Linked DNA regions of Homo sapiens: all the other regions are linked to region 3. Evidence: fine-mapped expression QTL. A gene starts in region 3. Each other region holds a variant in brackets. All regions are shown on one strand. Distances are from middle to middle. Region 1 overlaps LOC105378565 (a long non-coding RNA gene). Region 2 overlaps JAKMIP3 (Janus kinase and microtubule interacting protein 3). Region 3 holds the start of DPYSL4 (dihydropyrimidinase like 4).

Region 1 (5,236 bases), 330 kb after region 3:
ACAGGTGAACGAGGTAGTGTCATGAAAACCTCAGTCCTTCCCCTATGGATGTGTGAACGGGATGCCACCTAAATAGAATTTCTAAAGAGATGTTTTCCATTTTCTTTTTTGAAATAAAAAGAAGTATTTAAATTCACATCGAGGAATAGTGTCTGAAAATAGTTGAGAATGTTTTCTAAAGAACAGTGAGCCAGGAATCACACCTTATCAGATACTTAGATCCCAACAGAGCCGATGGAATCCTGACGGCATGGTTTTGGCCCCAGGAACATGCAAGAAGAGCTGCCTGGAGTGGGTCCAAGTTCCAGGGGAATTTCAGGCAGCTCAGCGGGAACTGGGGGCTTGTATAACAGAAGGTGCTGGCATGATGGGCGATGAAGGAAAGATCCAGAATCCTGTATCGCACCATGCATAAAAATAAACCCCATCGAGAATGAAGAGTTGGATGTAAAGTGTGAAAATATTAAAAGATACCTAAAGATAGCATTCTATACCCTTGGGATGGGAGAGAGCTTCTCCCATAAGACGGGATATCTAAAAGCCATAAAGGGAATCAGACTTTGTCTTATGAGGTGCAAAATTTCCCCCTTCGATTATTTGCTTCTGGTACATTTTGCAACATTTAAACAAAAATTTTAAACAAAAAGTGAATATCTCTTATATTAAAGCGTTCTGACACCATGATAAAAAGACATCAATAGTAAAGCAGAGAATATGGAAAGGCATCCCACGGAACAGGAGACACAAATGGCTGGTGAAGAGAACAAAACAGGCTCCTGCTCCCAGCAGTCAGGACGTAGCTGTGGTGTGGAGGCTGCAAGTCAAGCCCAGCAAAGGTGACTGGGTGTCTAGGGACCAGGTTCCTATGCAGGTAAAGATGGCCAGTATTCAGTGGCTGGGGATCCCCAGACCAAAGCAATTTGTCAGCTCCATGGGAGTCGTGCAGGTGTGACTGGCTATCAGACTGCTGTGGAACGAGGCGACTGTATCAAGGTCCCCAGGCTCTAGTTACTTTAGGAGACAGCCTGGTGGCCAAAGAGAACTGGTTCTGTCCACCAGGTCACTGGGAGGGTCCTGGGCCCAGAAAAAGGCTTGTTCATGAAACTGCTTTCCAAGACAGTCACACTGGGAAAAAAATGTCTCTAAAATTCTGGTTCTTGAGCCATTTCATGAGGAGCTGAAGTCCTAAAAAAGGGATGGAGTTTGCAGTGACTCGTTGCAGTGACTCATTGCAGTGCCTCGTTGCTGTGACTTGTGAGGCTGAGTGGGCATCGCTACCTGCATACCTCTCCCCAGACTCCGTCAACCACCTAGGCTGAAAGCTGTTCTGATGGGAAGATTCCATCCCAAGCCCCTGGTGCCCTCCCCACTGGAGGATTTTTAGCGAGATGAGAGGCTGAGCCAATTCTGGACCAGCCTGGACAGCATCCCTGTGGATGACCTGAGACATACTCAGCTGTCCCCACTGGCCGGTCCTGATTCATCCCCAAGACTCTGAGGAAGAAACTCTGCACAGCTGACTGCTGCTTCATGTCCTCCCTCAAAACTACGTTTTTGGTGTTGCCACCCTCCTCCTGGCCATGTGGGTCTCCCACGTTCTCTGCTGCCGTCCAGCAGGTGACCCTGGGAGGGCTTCAGTTTCCCTTCCAGTGCGGTGGAGTCGCCTTAGCCTGATCTTTGCAGGGACCCCATGGCCCCACCCTTTGCCCTGCCTGCAGAGGGCGCCGGCCGAAGGGCCCGAGCACCTTTAAAGCCTGCCCTGAGAAACACCCGCCTCGACCGCTGTGGCTTGACACGCCTGGCTCACACAGCGTGAAACGGAGGCCTTTGGCCTACTTTAAAGAAAAGGGTGGATGTTTGGGGAAGAAAATGAGGTTTCCTGAAGTCTCCAGCCCCAGTCTCGATGCCGGAAACCTGCTCGTGTTTCAGTATCCGATGCCCCGCCCTCCTGGGCACCACTGCCCTGCTCTGCGATGAGCAAACAGTTGGTGCCTTCTGTGTGCAGCCAGGATTTCTCTTTCACCCTCCTCCCGACCGGCTGCCGGCAATGGCGCTTTGGCCCCACTGCTGAGGGGCCGCACTGCCGAGGGGCCGTCGAACCTGTATGGATCTAAGACCCATCACGCCTCCCGCCGTCACTCAGGGGTTGCGGCATCATGACCACACGCTTCAGAAACATTCTCTC[T/G]AAAAATTTGCCCCACATCTCTCCTGCTCAGCATTCCTTGGACTTGAACAGCTATCAGGAAGGTCCCTGTTCCCCCTACTCCACCCACTCACCATGCATTTGATTCTCTGAAGTCACTCCAGGCCCTTGGGGAGGAAATGGGGCGCAGTATTGTCTCATCCTGAAACCGGCTTAGAGCCTCCTGATGGGTTTGCAGCAGGGCCAAATCTGTTGAGACAGCTTCCTCCCACTCCGTGGCTCCATCCGTCAACACCAGCATCCTTTGTCTGGGTGTGAATGAGAGCCGGGAACGTTGGTCCTCGCTCCTGTTCTCGGGTGGCACGGTGGCGGCTGAGGCTGGCCTCCTGTCCCAGGCTTTAGAGATCGTGGTGCTGGCTTTGGAGTGGGCTGTGGCTGAAGGCTGTGCTGCCCCTGCCTGAGGACCAGATGGGGATGGGACCTCCACAGTCACTCCCCTGGGTGCTGCCAACCAACTCAGCATGGCCTCATGAGGACTCAGGGTCCTGTCCCCGCCCCCCCGCCCCTTGCCCTGTGGCCCTGGGCAGCCGCCTCAGTCAGAGGCAGGCTCTGAACCACTGCACGCTGACAATGAACTATACTAAGAGACCTGTTCGGGATGGGGGTGCCCAGGGCCGCCCCGGATGAGTCTCCGGTTTACGCATCTGCATGGACTTCTCAGAAAAGGCCATGGCTTCACCCCTCAGCACCCCCGACTCATGTGCCCTGCAGGTCCACGGCCTCAGTTTGACTTGCTTCTTCTGGCCATGCTGGGTCCATATCCTGCCCCAGGCGTGCACCCAGGCTTCTCCTCCATCTCTTCCTCCACACCAGACTGGAGAGTACCACTGGAGTTGGCAGAATCATGTCCCCAAGGATGCTGCTGTCCCACTACAGGACCTATAGATATGCTAGGCTATGGGGGGCCATGGGGGGTGCCGTGAGGGGCTCAATATGCTCATCAGCTGACCTTACCCGACGGGGAGGAGCGTGGAGAAGCCGAGGGGCTCAGAGCCAGGGAGGGCAATGTGAGGGCTGGGCTGGATGCTGCTGGCTCTGAGGACGGAGGCAGCTTCCTTCTAGAAGCTGGAAGGGGCGAGAGAAGGGATTCTCCCCTGGATCCTCTAGAAGGAACCAGCCCTGCCAGCACCTGGACTTTAGCCCAGAGAGCCCTGTTTCACTCCGTACGGACCCCTGGGGTGTGAAGAAAGATGCCTGTGCTGCTGTGAGCCACCAAAGTACGTGGCGGTTAGTTCCAGTGCCACAGGAAACGCGCATCGGCACCACCAAACAAAACACCAGGGCTGTGCCCGGCGCCCAAGGCCAGGTGAGATCCACTGTCTCCCTGGCTGGGCCTGGCCGCACCTGGGGCCGCTGCACTCCTGCTGCCCATCTCCACGTGTTCTGCTGGCTTCTCTCTCCCTGTGGCTGCCCGAGGCATTGATCTGAGCTCACGCCTGCCCTGACGGGTTTCTGGCTCACAGACCTCTACTGGCCAATCTCCACTGGCCTCTCTAAGTTCTGAGGCGTCTCTGGAGTGTCTTCCGCCTGCTTGCCTCTGGGAATCTGAGCTTTTCCTTCTGGATTCTTCTGCCATGGAGCTTACTCTGGGGCCACCATAGCTGTGCTCTGCCTACCCCACCAGTATTGGGGCTGTGAGTGTGGTTTAAGGGTCATTAACTGAACAATACGCAGCATGGGCCCCCACCCAGGCCATCTCCACGCAGCTGCCCGCGGGGCAGAGTTCAGGTCACTCCGGGGCTCAACACCCTCCTGAGGCTCCCATCTCAGACTCGGCCTAAAGCCAAAGCTTTGAAGGCCCACAGGGCCCTGCCCAGCCTCCCCCGCCCACCCCGCTCCTCTGATTGATTTCCCTCCCCTCTCTGCTCCCTCCTCCCCCAGGCTGGCTGCCCAGCCTTCTGTAGCCTGCACGTTGTAGGGCCCCAGGGCCTTCGCACCTGCTCCCTGCCTGGAAAGTCCCTGGGGTTCTGGAGGCTGTTCCTCACACTCCCGGGAAGCCTTTGCTCCTTTCCCTCCTCAGGAGGCACCACCCCGACCTGGGCACAGCTGTGACCATGGGCCCTCCTGCTCCAGCCTGTGAGGGCGACACCTCGCCCGCTCCTGACTTTCCAGGGCAGGAATGTTGGGGGTCGGTGACATTCAGAGTGTCCCTCTGGGGTTACAGACACCCAAAGATGTGCCCAAAGACACTGCCAGTCACACGCTCCGCCAGGGTGGGCACAGCCGGTCACAGCTCTTGATTTCCCCGGTGGAGATGCCCGCACCTGCATTTCCAGGGGGTCCAGCCTCACCCTCCTGGGCTCTACCCCACCACCGATTCCACCCACCTGTGCTGTTCGCTGTTGGCTTCTGCCCCAGAGCACCAGGGGCACCGCTGGCTCCTGCCGCTGCAGCTTCTGTGCTTCTGGGAGGCGTGGCTGTGGGAATGGGCTTTCAGCATGAAGGGTGCTTTGGTCTCTGTGCAGGGATGGGCACTGACAGGACAGGCCTCGGGGTCCTGGAGGGAGGAGCCACTCCCTGGGGACAGGCGGGCCATGGATGGGCCTGGTCCAGGGCATGGGCTCTGCCAAGGCCAGCGTCCGGAGGTGCTGGCTGTCCCAGAAATGCTGTGTCAGCCCTGAATGGGCCTCCGCTCGTCTTCCCCATAGCCCTGGGAAGGCAGACTTTTAAACTGGCCCCCAGGTGCCCGTCCTTGCAGGGCACACACCTTCCCCCTGTCATCCAATCACCACAGTCCAGAGGCTGCTGGGGAGGGATTCTGCAGGTGTAATGAGGGCCCTTGCTCAGTGAACCTTCAATGGGGGCATGTGCTGGGCCCTGAGCTGGTCAGGTGAGTCCTTAATGGGGCCTTGAAATTCTGGGCAGCTGGGGTTCAAAATGGGAGGGATCTGGCCCGGGAGGATTCCTCTGGGGCTGGGCTGGGTGACTCTGAAGATAGAGGAGACACGCTGACCTGGGTGTGGGCCTGGCTGACAGCCAGCAAGCAAGCAGTGACCCCAGTCTTGCAGCCACACGGCAGTGGACTCTGCCAGC
Region 2 (5,165 bases), 28 kb after region 3:
CCCCCAGCATCACACAGGGAGAGATACCCCCCAGCATCACACAGGGAGAGACCCCCCCCAGCATCACACAGGGAGAGGCCCCCCAGCATCACACAGGAAGAGACCCCCCCAGCATCACACAGGAAGAGGCCACCGCCTGCATCACACAGGAAGAGGCTCCCCAGCATCACACAGGGAGAGGCCCCCCCCAGTAAGACACAGGAATAGACCCCCCCCAGCATCACACAGGAAGAGGCCCCCCCAGCATCACACAGGGAGACCGCCCCCCCAACATCACACAGGGAGAGACCACCCCAGCATCACACAGGGAGAGACCACCCCAGCATCACACAGGGAGAGGCCCCCCCAGCATCACACAGGGAGAGGCCCCCCCAGCATCACACAGGGAGAGGTCCCCCAGCATCACACAGGAAGAGACCCCCCAGCATCACACAGGAAGAGGCTCCCCAGCATCACACAGGGAGAGGCCCCCTCAATAAGACACAGGAATAGACCCCCCCCAGCATCACACAGGAAGAGGCCCCCCCAGCATCACACAGAAAGACACGCCCCCAGCATCACACAGGAAGAGGCCCCCCCAGCATCACACAGTGAGAGGCCCCCCCCAGCATCACACAGGGAGAGGCCCACCCAGCATCACACAGGGAGAGGCCCACCCAGCATCACACAGGAAGAGACCCCCTAGCATCACACAGGAAGAGGCCACCGCCTGCATCACACAGGGAGAGGCCCCCCCCAGTAAGACATAGAAGTAGACCCCCACCAGCATCACACAGGAAGAGGCCCCCCCCAGCATCACACAGGGAGACCCCCCCCCCAGCATCACACAGGAAGAGACCCCCCAGCATCACACAGGAAGAGACCCCCCCAGCATCACACAGGGAGAGGCCCCCCCAGCATCACACAGGGAGAGGCCCCCCCCAGTAAGACATAGAAGTAGACCCCCACCAGCATCACACAGGAAGAGGCCCCCCCCAGCATCACACAGGGAGACCCCCCCCCCAGCATCACACAGGAAGAGACCCCCCAGCATCACACAGGAAGAGACCCCCCCAGCATCACACAGGGAGAGGCCCCCCCAGCATCACACAGGGAGAGGCCCCCCCAGCATCACACAGGGAGAGGTCCCCCAGCATCACACAGGAAGAGACCCCCCCAGCATCACACAGGAAGAGGCTCCCCAGCATCACACAGGGAGAGGCCCCCTCAATAAGACACAGGAATAGACCCCCCCCAGCATCACACAGGAAGAGGCTCCCCAGCATCACACAGGGAGAGGCCCCCTCAATAAGACACAGGAATAGACCCCCCCCAGCATCACACAGGAAGAGGCCCCCCCAGCATCACACAGTGAGAGGCCCCCCCCAGCATCACACAGGGAGAGGCCCACCCAGCATCACACAGGGAGAGGCCCACCCAGCATCACACAGGAAGAGACCCCCTAGCATCACACAGGAAGAGACCCCCCCCAGCATCACACAGGAAGAGGCCACCGCCTGCATCACACAGGAAGAGACCCCCCCAGCATCACACAGGAAGAGGCCACCGCCTGCATCACACAGGAAGAGGCTCCCCAGCATCACACAGGGAGAGGCCCCCCCCAGTAAGACATAGAAGTAGACCCCCACCAGCATCACACAGGAAGAGGCCCCCCCAGCATCACACAGGGAGACCCCCCCCCAGCATCACACAGGAAGAGACCCCCCAGCATCACACAGGAAGAGACCCCCCCAGCATCACACAGGGAGAGGCCCCCCAGCATCACACAGGGAGAGGCCCCCCAGCATCACACAGCGAGAGGCCCCCCAGCATCACACAGGAAGAGACCCCCCAGTATCACACAGGAAGAGGCCCCCCCAGTATCACACAGGAAGACATGCCCCCAGCATCACACAGGGAGAGGCCCCCTGAGCATCACATAGGGAGAGGACCCCCCAGCATCACACAGGGAGAGGCCCCCCAGCATCACAAAGGAAGAGGACCCCCAGCATCACATAGGAAGACATGCCCCCAGCATCACACAGGGAGACACGCCCCCCCAGCATCACACAGGGAGAGACCCTCCCAGCATCACACAGGAAGACACACCCCCAGCATCACACAGGGAGAGCCTCCTCCAGCATTACACAGGAAGAGAGCCCCCCCACCCAGCATCACGCAGAAAAAACACACCCCCGGCATCCACAGGAATAGGCCCCCTCAGTAAGACACAGGAATAGACCCCCCCCAACCAGCATCACACAGGGAGAGGCCCCCTCAGCATCACACAGGGAGAGGCGCCCTCAGCATCACACAGGGAGAGGCGCCCCCAGCATCACAGAGGAAGAGGTGCCCCCGACATCACACAGGGAGAGGCCCCCCCAGCATCACACAGGGAGAGATGCCCCCACAGCATCACACAGGGAGAGATGCCCCCACAACATCACACAGGAAGAGATACCCCCACAACATCACACAAGGAGAGACGCCCCCAGAATCACACGGGGAGAGACGCCCCCAGAATCACACGGGAAGACACAACCCCAGCGTCACACAGGGAGAGGGCCCTCTGACATCACACAGGAAGAGACCCCCCCCAGCATCACACAGGGAGAGGCCCCCCCCCAGCATCACACAGCGAGAGATCCCCCCCAGCATCACACAGCGAGAGGTCCCCCCCCCCAGCATCACAAAGGAAGATGCCCCTCCCACAGCATCACACAGGAAGATGCCCCTCCCACAGCATCACACAGGAAGATGCCCCTCCCACAGCATCACACAGGAAGATGCCCCTCCCACAGCATCACACAGGAAGATGCCCCTCCCACAGCATCACACAGGAAGATGCCCCTCCCACAGCATCACACAGGAAGATGCCCCTCCCACAGCATCACACAGGAAGATGCCCCTCCCACAGCATCACACAGGAAGATGCCCCTCCCACAGCATCACACAGGAAGATGCCCCTCCCACAGCATCTCACAGGAAGATGCTCCTCCCACAGCATCTCACAGGAGGA[T/A]GCCCCCAGTCCCCTCCAGAGTAGGGGCCATTAATCCTGGCCCAACCAGCAACCATGTGCCTCCCCACTGGTCTTTGGGGCTGAATGATCCCCTGAGCAGTTGGCCCCATCTGAGGTCTGAGAACACAGCTACTGTGGAGGTGGCAGAGAGAGGTGGCCTCACAGAAAGCTGAAGCTGGGCTTTGATCTTCTGGAAATGTGTGTGGAGACCTACATCTCTAATCCCATGGGGTGTCCATGGGATGTTTGATCACAAGGACCATGGTGGCAGTTGCTCTGGGCCAGGGCCCCCACTCCTGGAGCTCTCTATGCTCAGATCCTGCATTCTGGTCAGGTCAAGGGGGCCCATAGGCCACTTCTCCACTCATGGGACAACTCTCCCGACCCAGTGGAGGGATTCTGGGACTGAGGCATCACTCCAGACACAATCTTACAAAGGGGAATTATCTGTGACGTTAGGGTGGAAAAGGTGGATGGCTGAGTAGACAGATGCTGCCGGGGGCGGGGCGGGGCGGGGCGGGGCGGGGGGGCGGTGGGCAGCCATCCTGGAGGTGCATAAATTTCCATTTCCTCTTTACACCTGCCTCACACACACCTCAAAGTAATGCTGAAAGAAAACACTGGAATTTTTTTGTACAATCTCTTTTTTTTTTCTGTACGAAGTTGAAATTATGCCATAAAACCTGGAGGCCATCAACCTCGTAAAAATTACCCAAATTCTGCCAGGCCCTCAAAACAGTGTTTGATATCAAAGAGCAACAACAAGCTGGGTGAAATATTTGCCATGTCCCATTCTTCTGACTAAGGAAATAAAGGAAATATTTGCAATGGATGGCAAAGGGCTGGTTGCCTTCTTTTATCAAGAGCTCTGACCAAAATGTCAGATAGCATGAGAGAGGTGGGAAAGGTTACAAACAGACGTGGCGTGGAGTTGCATAGAAACATGTTAGACTTTGAGCTCACCAGAGACATGCCTGCTAGGACTGCACCAGGCGGCTGCATATCATGCAGTGGAAGTTTGGGCTGCAAGTTATACCTACTATGGGGAGAAATATTCGGCAGTTCCTAACAACACCTTAAGTGTGCATACCCTTTGGTCATTCCAAATAACTTTTCCTGCAGATAATCTCCATTTGTGTGTCGGGACGTCAGAAATGGATAGGAATTGCTGTTTTGCTGGTGATAGCTAATGCATGGACAGTACCTAAGTCCACTACTGGGGATGAACAGTCCATGATGCGCTCACACCAAGTCACTCCTTGGGCTGGTGGGAAGCGCCCTGGCTGTGCACAGTCAGGTGAAAGGGAAGCATGCTGCAGCTGGTGGGTTTCTCAGGCTATCCATGAAAATGCACGTGCGCACACATGTGGTTACACCCCGCACTTCAGAGAAGGAGAAGAGAACCAGCAAGTGGGGTCCCCTTTGTTGGTGGCATCTGGAGTCCAGAGAACAGGAACGGGAAGAAAATGTCCTTTTCTACTGTGAACATTTCCTACCATTGGCATGATGACCATCTCTCGGAGAACAAGCCTCAGATAAGCATGGGGACCGCGCTTTTGCAAAGATACTATGTGTATCCCCATCCTGCCAAGAGACCATCAGGAGAGAAACCAGAATGCCCACAGTCTTTCTCTGTGTGCTGGGCACGTAGTGAACTTTTTTCTTGGATTTTTCTGTGTTGTAAATCAGAACTATACATTGATTATTCTTTCATTCAGAAAAAAAATGCAATATTAAAAAAAGAAATGCATGTCCTTCTCTTCCCTCTCCTGTCTCAAGGTGGGCTGGATTTAAAAACCTCCGCATAATCCTTAGCTCTTTTCCTCTTCACCTATGCATCACCCGCAAAGCACCTGCTGCCTGCCAGGCCTCGTGCTGGTCTAGGAGACCAGATGGCAGCAGATGCACATGGTCCCTGCTTGCCCCATAGAAAGGCAGAACCACTTCCATGAGTGGGGCATGTCAGGGCCACCTCACTGGGGGTCAGGGAAGGTTTCCTAGAGGAGACGAGGTACCAAACTGAGGCTTGCAGTGTCAATCAGGGATGGGCAGGAGAAGGAAAGGGAGGGCGCCCCAGGCAGATGGAACAGCAGCAGCGAAGGCTGGGTGGGGTCCTCTGTCTCCCGGCCTGCTGTGGTGGTGGCTGCACAGCAGTGGAGATGCCTGC
Region 3 (5,236 bases):
GTCTGGCGTGCGCCTCAGCACGCCCTGCAACTGACCCGGCAGGACTGACCGTCTGCATTTAACAGGGAGGTCCGGCCGCCTGCTCTGGGTTTCCAGGGCCCACCCATAGGTGGCCAGGGCCCTAGCCTGGGGCTAGAGCCTTCACGCACCGTCAGTCTGAAGCCAAGAGCATTAAACTGAAGTGCACAATTGGTAAAACTCTCAGAATGAGAAGGAGTTCATTATCTAGGAACTCCATTACAGGATTCACTGCTGACATCTAACTGTGGGGCTGTATTTTCAGGATCCCAGTGACTTGTCAACCTCTACCCCATAGTCTACAAACGGTTGGCAGACTATGCCACAGGCCAGACCCAACCCTCTACCTCTCTTCATACAGCCCTAGGCTAAGAATCGTTCTTGTATATTCACTGAAAACAATAACAAGAGTATGTCATGACTCAAAAATTCTATGAAGTTCACACTGCAGCATCCACAGATGAAGTTTTGTTGGAACACAGTGGTGCCCATCGACTTCCTAAATGTCCAGGACTGCTTTCCTGGCAGGGCCAAGCAGCTGAGACAGGAACAGCGTGGTCCGCAAAGCTGACAACATTTACTCTCGGGCTGGTTGTGGAAGAAGTTTTAGACCCTTGGTCTACAGAGCTGTCTGTTCCCAGCCGCTGCACCTCTCCTCCTCCTGCCCAGTCCCAGCTGAGCGCCAGGCTCAGCCCTGACCCGGCACCACCATGCATTTGCAGAGCCTCTGTGGCCGCATCAGGCCCTGGCTGCCTTCCCGGTGCTGTCCCTCTTCTTCACTTTCCACCCCTCCCAGGGGACCCACGCATTTTCAAGGAAGCCCTAGAAAACGCAACCGGGCAGAAGGAGGCTTGAGGAGACGTGTGGTCTGGGCTCTCTGCTCATAGGCGCCCAAGTGTTCAGGCACCCGCACTGAGACTGGGTTTGGAACCCAGAGGAGACGCAGCTGGGGTGTGGGGCTGTGCTCTTCTTACTGCACTCATCCGGATGGAGGTGAAAGTTCCCGGGAAGCAGCTGCCCCTCCGCACTGACATGGTTGCCTGACCTCCCCTGGGAAGGGGTCCTCCTGCCACCCCCAAACTCGACCCCCACATGCCAGCTGACTGGCAAGACCTCCTGCATCAAGACCAGACCCAGCCGGGCAGAACCCTCTGGAGGCAGCAGCCCCTCCCATCTGGAGAGGGGAGGGCTCCTTCCTCGCTCAGAGTCTGGGGGAGTGGAGCCCACAGCCCACGGCTCGAGCTAATGCCAGAGGTCAGACCCCACGGCCCTCCCGCCGAGGCCAAGTCCAGAGTCGGGTCTGGGACCCCATGGACTCCCCCGCCCAGGTCCTGCCGGGTCCCGAAGCCTCCTTCCTCCCACCCCCATCTCCCCCCGCCCGAGCGGGGAGGCTTTGTTTCTGGCAGAGCGGGACCTCCCGCGCCGGTGCGTGTGGGTGTTGGGGAGGGGTCTCTGCTCTCGAAGGTTCAGGGGCTGCCAGGGTTCCCGGCCAGTGGCCCTTGACCGCTCGCTTTCCTTGGAGTCGCTGAACCCAGGTTACTGGAAGGGTTCGGGGCCACCAGGGACTCCGGCCAGAGCGGCCGGGGCTAAATCGCTTTGTCTCGGACAAAGAGCTCCCGACGCAGCGCCAGTGCGTCCAAGGGGCGGGCGACCCACGGGCTGCGCCGGGAACGGCATCTCCCCGCGCCCCGGACCAGCCCGGGCCAACAAAGGGCCGCGTCCGCCCGCCTCGCCACCCGACCGCCGTGGGAGAAAGGAGCCGCTAGCGCTCCGAGGGACAGGCCGCCCGGCCCCGGGTTCTCCCCGGGCGCAGCCGAGGCTCCCGGAAGCCGGCAAGGCCGGGCAAGGCCGGGCAGGGCCCGGCAGGGCCCGGCAGGGCCGGGCAGGGCCGGGCCGGGCCGGGCCTGGGCGCCCCGCTCCTTAAGGGGGTCTGCGCGGCGCTAGCGGGGACTCTCGGACCCTGGGGCGCGAAGGAGCCGAGCAGGGAAGGGCGGGCGCCAGGACAGGGACCAGACGCAAAGGCAGGGACCCCCCACCCACGCACAAGACCAGGAGGGTCCGCCCGGCGTCCAGGCCCCACTCCGGGCGGCGGGCAGGGGGCGCCGGGCGAAGCGGGACCGGGCTCACCGTGATCCGGGGGATGCTTTTCTTGCCCTGGAAGGACATCCTGCTCCTGGGGGTCTCTGGTAGGGGCGGCACAAGCGGGGGCGGGCGGGCGGGCGGGCGGGCGGGGGGACGCGTGAGCCGGGACGCGTGCGTGGGGACGGCGGGAGACAGACTGCGAGCGCGCGGGGCCGCACGGCTCCGTTCCGGTCCCGCCCCCGCTGGGCCCCGCCCCCACCCCGGCTCCGCCCCCGGCAGGCCCCGCCCCCGATAGGGCCCGCCCCAGCCCGAGCCCCGCCTCACCCCGCCCATCAGCCCCGCCCCCGCCCTCAGCCACTCCTTCGCTTTAAAGCCCCCCCAGCGCTGGAACCGCTGCAGGGTCTGATCTCTGCACCCCGGGCCCCCGCGCAGACCCGCGGACGAGCGCTGGGTGGGGATTTCAACCTGCTCCAGCTGATGTGCGCGGGGTTTGCACCCCGGGGAGGCGAGGGAGAGAGTCCGGCCACGTCCTGCCAGGCCCCGCCCGCGCCCCCGCTGCCCTCCAGCGCGGAACCCAGGTCCCAGGAGACGCGAGGCGCCCAAGGCCCCGGGATTCCGAGCCAGTCAACCCCGGGCCGCGACGCTCTGGGAACCACACCCGTCCAGGAAGGCACCTTGGCCAAAGCCGGCTCCTTCGCAGATGACCCGGGCCAGGGTCCGAGCGCCAGGCTGTGACCCCGCGAGGCTGTTCCACGCTGGCCGCGAGAGACGGAGGGCAGGAGGGGCCCGAATAGGACAGAGAGAGAGAGAGAGAGAGACAGAAGGAGGCGCACGCGCTCCCCAGGGACCGGGACGCGGTGGTGGGCGGGACCTCGCGGGGGTGGGGGGTGGTCGCAGGACCCAGAAGGCTCAGGACCTTTACGGATAGGGAGGACCCCGCAGGGGGGAGCGGGGGAGCCCCACGCCCGGCGTCCTCCGGGTGCGAGGGTCTCGGGGAGTCCGAGCCCGGGCCCACGGCCTCTGTCCCGCGGCCACTACCTGCTGGGGGTCCCGGGCCTGGGCCACGCCGGGCTGCCCTCGGGGACTTGCTGCGGCCGTTGAGGGGTCTCCGCGCGCCGCGCAGACTCGCCTCCCAACCCGAGGGCCCGGGCGGCCGCCGCCCAGAGCGTCCAGCGGCAGCGTCTTGCTCTCGAAGGCGTCCTCCACGCAGCGGAACACGCAGCCAAGCTTGGGCCGGGCCAGAGGCCTCGCGGGCTCCTGAGGCTGCCGCGCGGTCACGGCAGGAGCGGGCGACAGAATCCGGTCTCGGAGCCTCCTGTAGCGAGGTCTGCGCGGCAGGTGCACTGGGCGGACCTGGAGGCCGCGCCCTCCCCCCCCGCCTCCTGCCGCCCGGCAGCGCTGCGCGGAGCTGGCTCTGTCCACGTAGCGGGTGCTGAACGCCCCATTCTGGCCCCTGGGTGCTCGCTTAGTCCCGGCCACGCGTGGCTGCTCGCCCTCGGGACACACTGGGCGCTGGGAAGGCCGGGCGGGGAGCGCGCACCGGAGAAACCGCTGTGGGAATCCCGGCCACATTTCCAGGCCCCTTGGGCCGTCCCACGCCAGACAAGAAAGCCCTGACTCCGAAACCCTGGGCGAGTGTGGAGGGCGCGCGGGGGTGGGGTGTACCCGCCCACGCAAACTGCTGCTGATCTCCCTTAAAGCCGAGTTAGAGGCTTGGGGCGAGACAGGAGTGACGGGCGATGCTGTCACTCCATCTGTCATTCTACCCAGCCTGCAGCAGCTGAATTCGAACCCAGAGACTTCAGGCCTTTGCGTTGTTACCGCAGTCCGCATTTCAAAGCCAGAGTTTGGCCACTGAGTCACCATGACCTCGAGTACTGGCGGGGCCCGAGCCAGCAGAGCTAGGTCCAGCAGCTTCCCACCCCTTCGTCCTCCTCTGGGCTCCCCCTCCCCTAAATGATTAATGCAATGTCTGTTACTCACCTGTGTGGGACCGTCCACGGCAAATATCACCAACTGTTCTTATGCACGTGCAGAAGTTCCGTCCCTTTCCTAACTGTCTGATCTCTTCCATGGTTCACATTTGACCAACAGCCACAGGAGGGAGCCTCCCAGGTGGTCGACCGGAGCCAGGTGCTGCCAGGCACCCGACTGCAGAGCTTGCCCTCCAGGTGATCTCGCAGGTGAGAACTGGGGCTTTCCTCCACAGTGGGCGGAAGGCGCGGACTCCGTTTCTGGTGTGCAGAGGCACTGTTCAGAGAATGAACTCAGAAGTGCAGAAATGGCTCATACGGCTTTCAGTTCAAACTTTAATACCTTTGAGGGGACTTTAATCGTCTAAGATTTAAAACATTTTTTATTAAAACTGTACAATAATTTACAAACGAGTAAAAAATTCTCTGGTATATATCATAGGAATCACAATACAAAAATATTTGTAAAATCTTGTAGATCACCATACAAACCTATTTTAGGCCTGTGAATACTGCTTAGCATGGAACGGAATGTCACGTGGTTAGAGGGTGACTATGAAGGGAGTGCCTGGGAGAATACACACACTACCTGGCATGCCGCCGTAAGAAAACAGGCCCGGTTAGTTTTTGCATAAATTTACAATAAAGCTTTTTAAAAAATATACAGTAAACAAATATATGATTTGATACCTATATTCACAATATGAGTTTCCTGAGGCTAAACTGAATTCCATTACTGTGATAAAACACACACTCTCTCTCAGGGTTTCAAGGATGGGATGACGGTGAGTTGGCGAATGCGTCAGTGCCTCCAAACCCACACTTGGGCACTCTCTTCTTTTTGACTTCTAGTATCGGTGTTCACAAGCCCTGTAAGGCACTCGGGGTATCCTGAAGGCTACAGATTCTGCAAGGGCAGAGACTTTAAGGAACAGCCATAGTCCTTCTCCAGCTCAAAATCTGGACCATGGGCACAAGGTAAACAACACACTGGTGTCAACAAAGGAATCTGCTATTTATGTGGATTTTTACTTTAGACAAACTAAAGTATCTATGTTGTTCTGTGTGTTGAACACAGAGTGTGATGATGTTAATATAATGTAAATGTTGATGTAACAGTACATTTCTGGCAACATTTCAGGGTCCTTCCTCTTGCCTTATTA

What was found. PIP is the estimated chance that this variant, and not a neighbour inherited with it, causes the effect. A credible set is the group of variants that fine-mapping cannot tell apart.
Region 1: its variant is the best candidate, but not a certain one, in a credible set for the expression of DPYSL4 in amygdala (GTEx, PIP 0.55).
Region 2: its variant is the best candidate, but not a certain one, in a credible set for the expression of DPYSL4 in whole blood (TOPMed, PIP 0.57).

The regions. Positions count from the first base shown.
Region 1 is chr10:131,855,562-131,860,797 of GRCh38, reverse strand. LOC105378565 (a long non-coding RNA gene) reads left to right here. Exons shown (of 2, transcript XR_946487.4): 2 at 1-136. Among named protein-coding and RNA genes, the nearest start is that of PPP2R2D, 43 kb to the left of the region's middle. The variant T/G (reference allele first, on the strand shown) is at 2,186.
Region 2 is chr10:132,156,437-132,161,601 of GRCh38, reverse strand. The region is part of intron 19 of JAKMIP3 (Janus kinase and microtubule interacting protein 3); the gene reads right to left. Among named protein-coding and RNA genes, the nearest start is that of JAKMIP3-AS1, 28 kb to the left of the region's middle. The variant T/A (reference allele first, on the strand shown) is at 2,999.
Region 3 is chr10:132,184,012-132,189,247 of GRCh38, reverse strand. It overlaps DPYSL4 (dihydropyrimidinase like 4), which reads right to left and starts at 2,300. Exons shown (of 14, transcript NM_006426.3): 1 at 2,146-2,300. The coding sequence starts at 2,184. JAKMIP3 (Janus kinase and microtubule interacting protein 3) reads right to left here. Exons shown (of 24, transcript NM_001323087.2): 24 at 4,390-5,236. It overlaps JAKMIP3-AS1 (JAKMIP3 antisense RNA 1), which reads left to right and starts at 2,496. Exons shown (of 4, transcript NR_184044.1): 1 at 2,496-4,283; 2 at 4,926-5,051. RefSeq lists an enhancer at 1,080-1,581.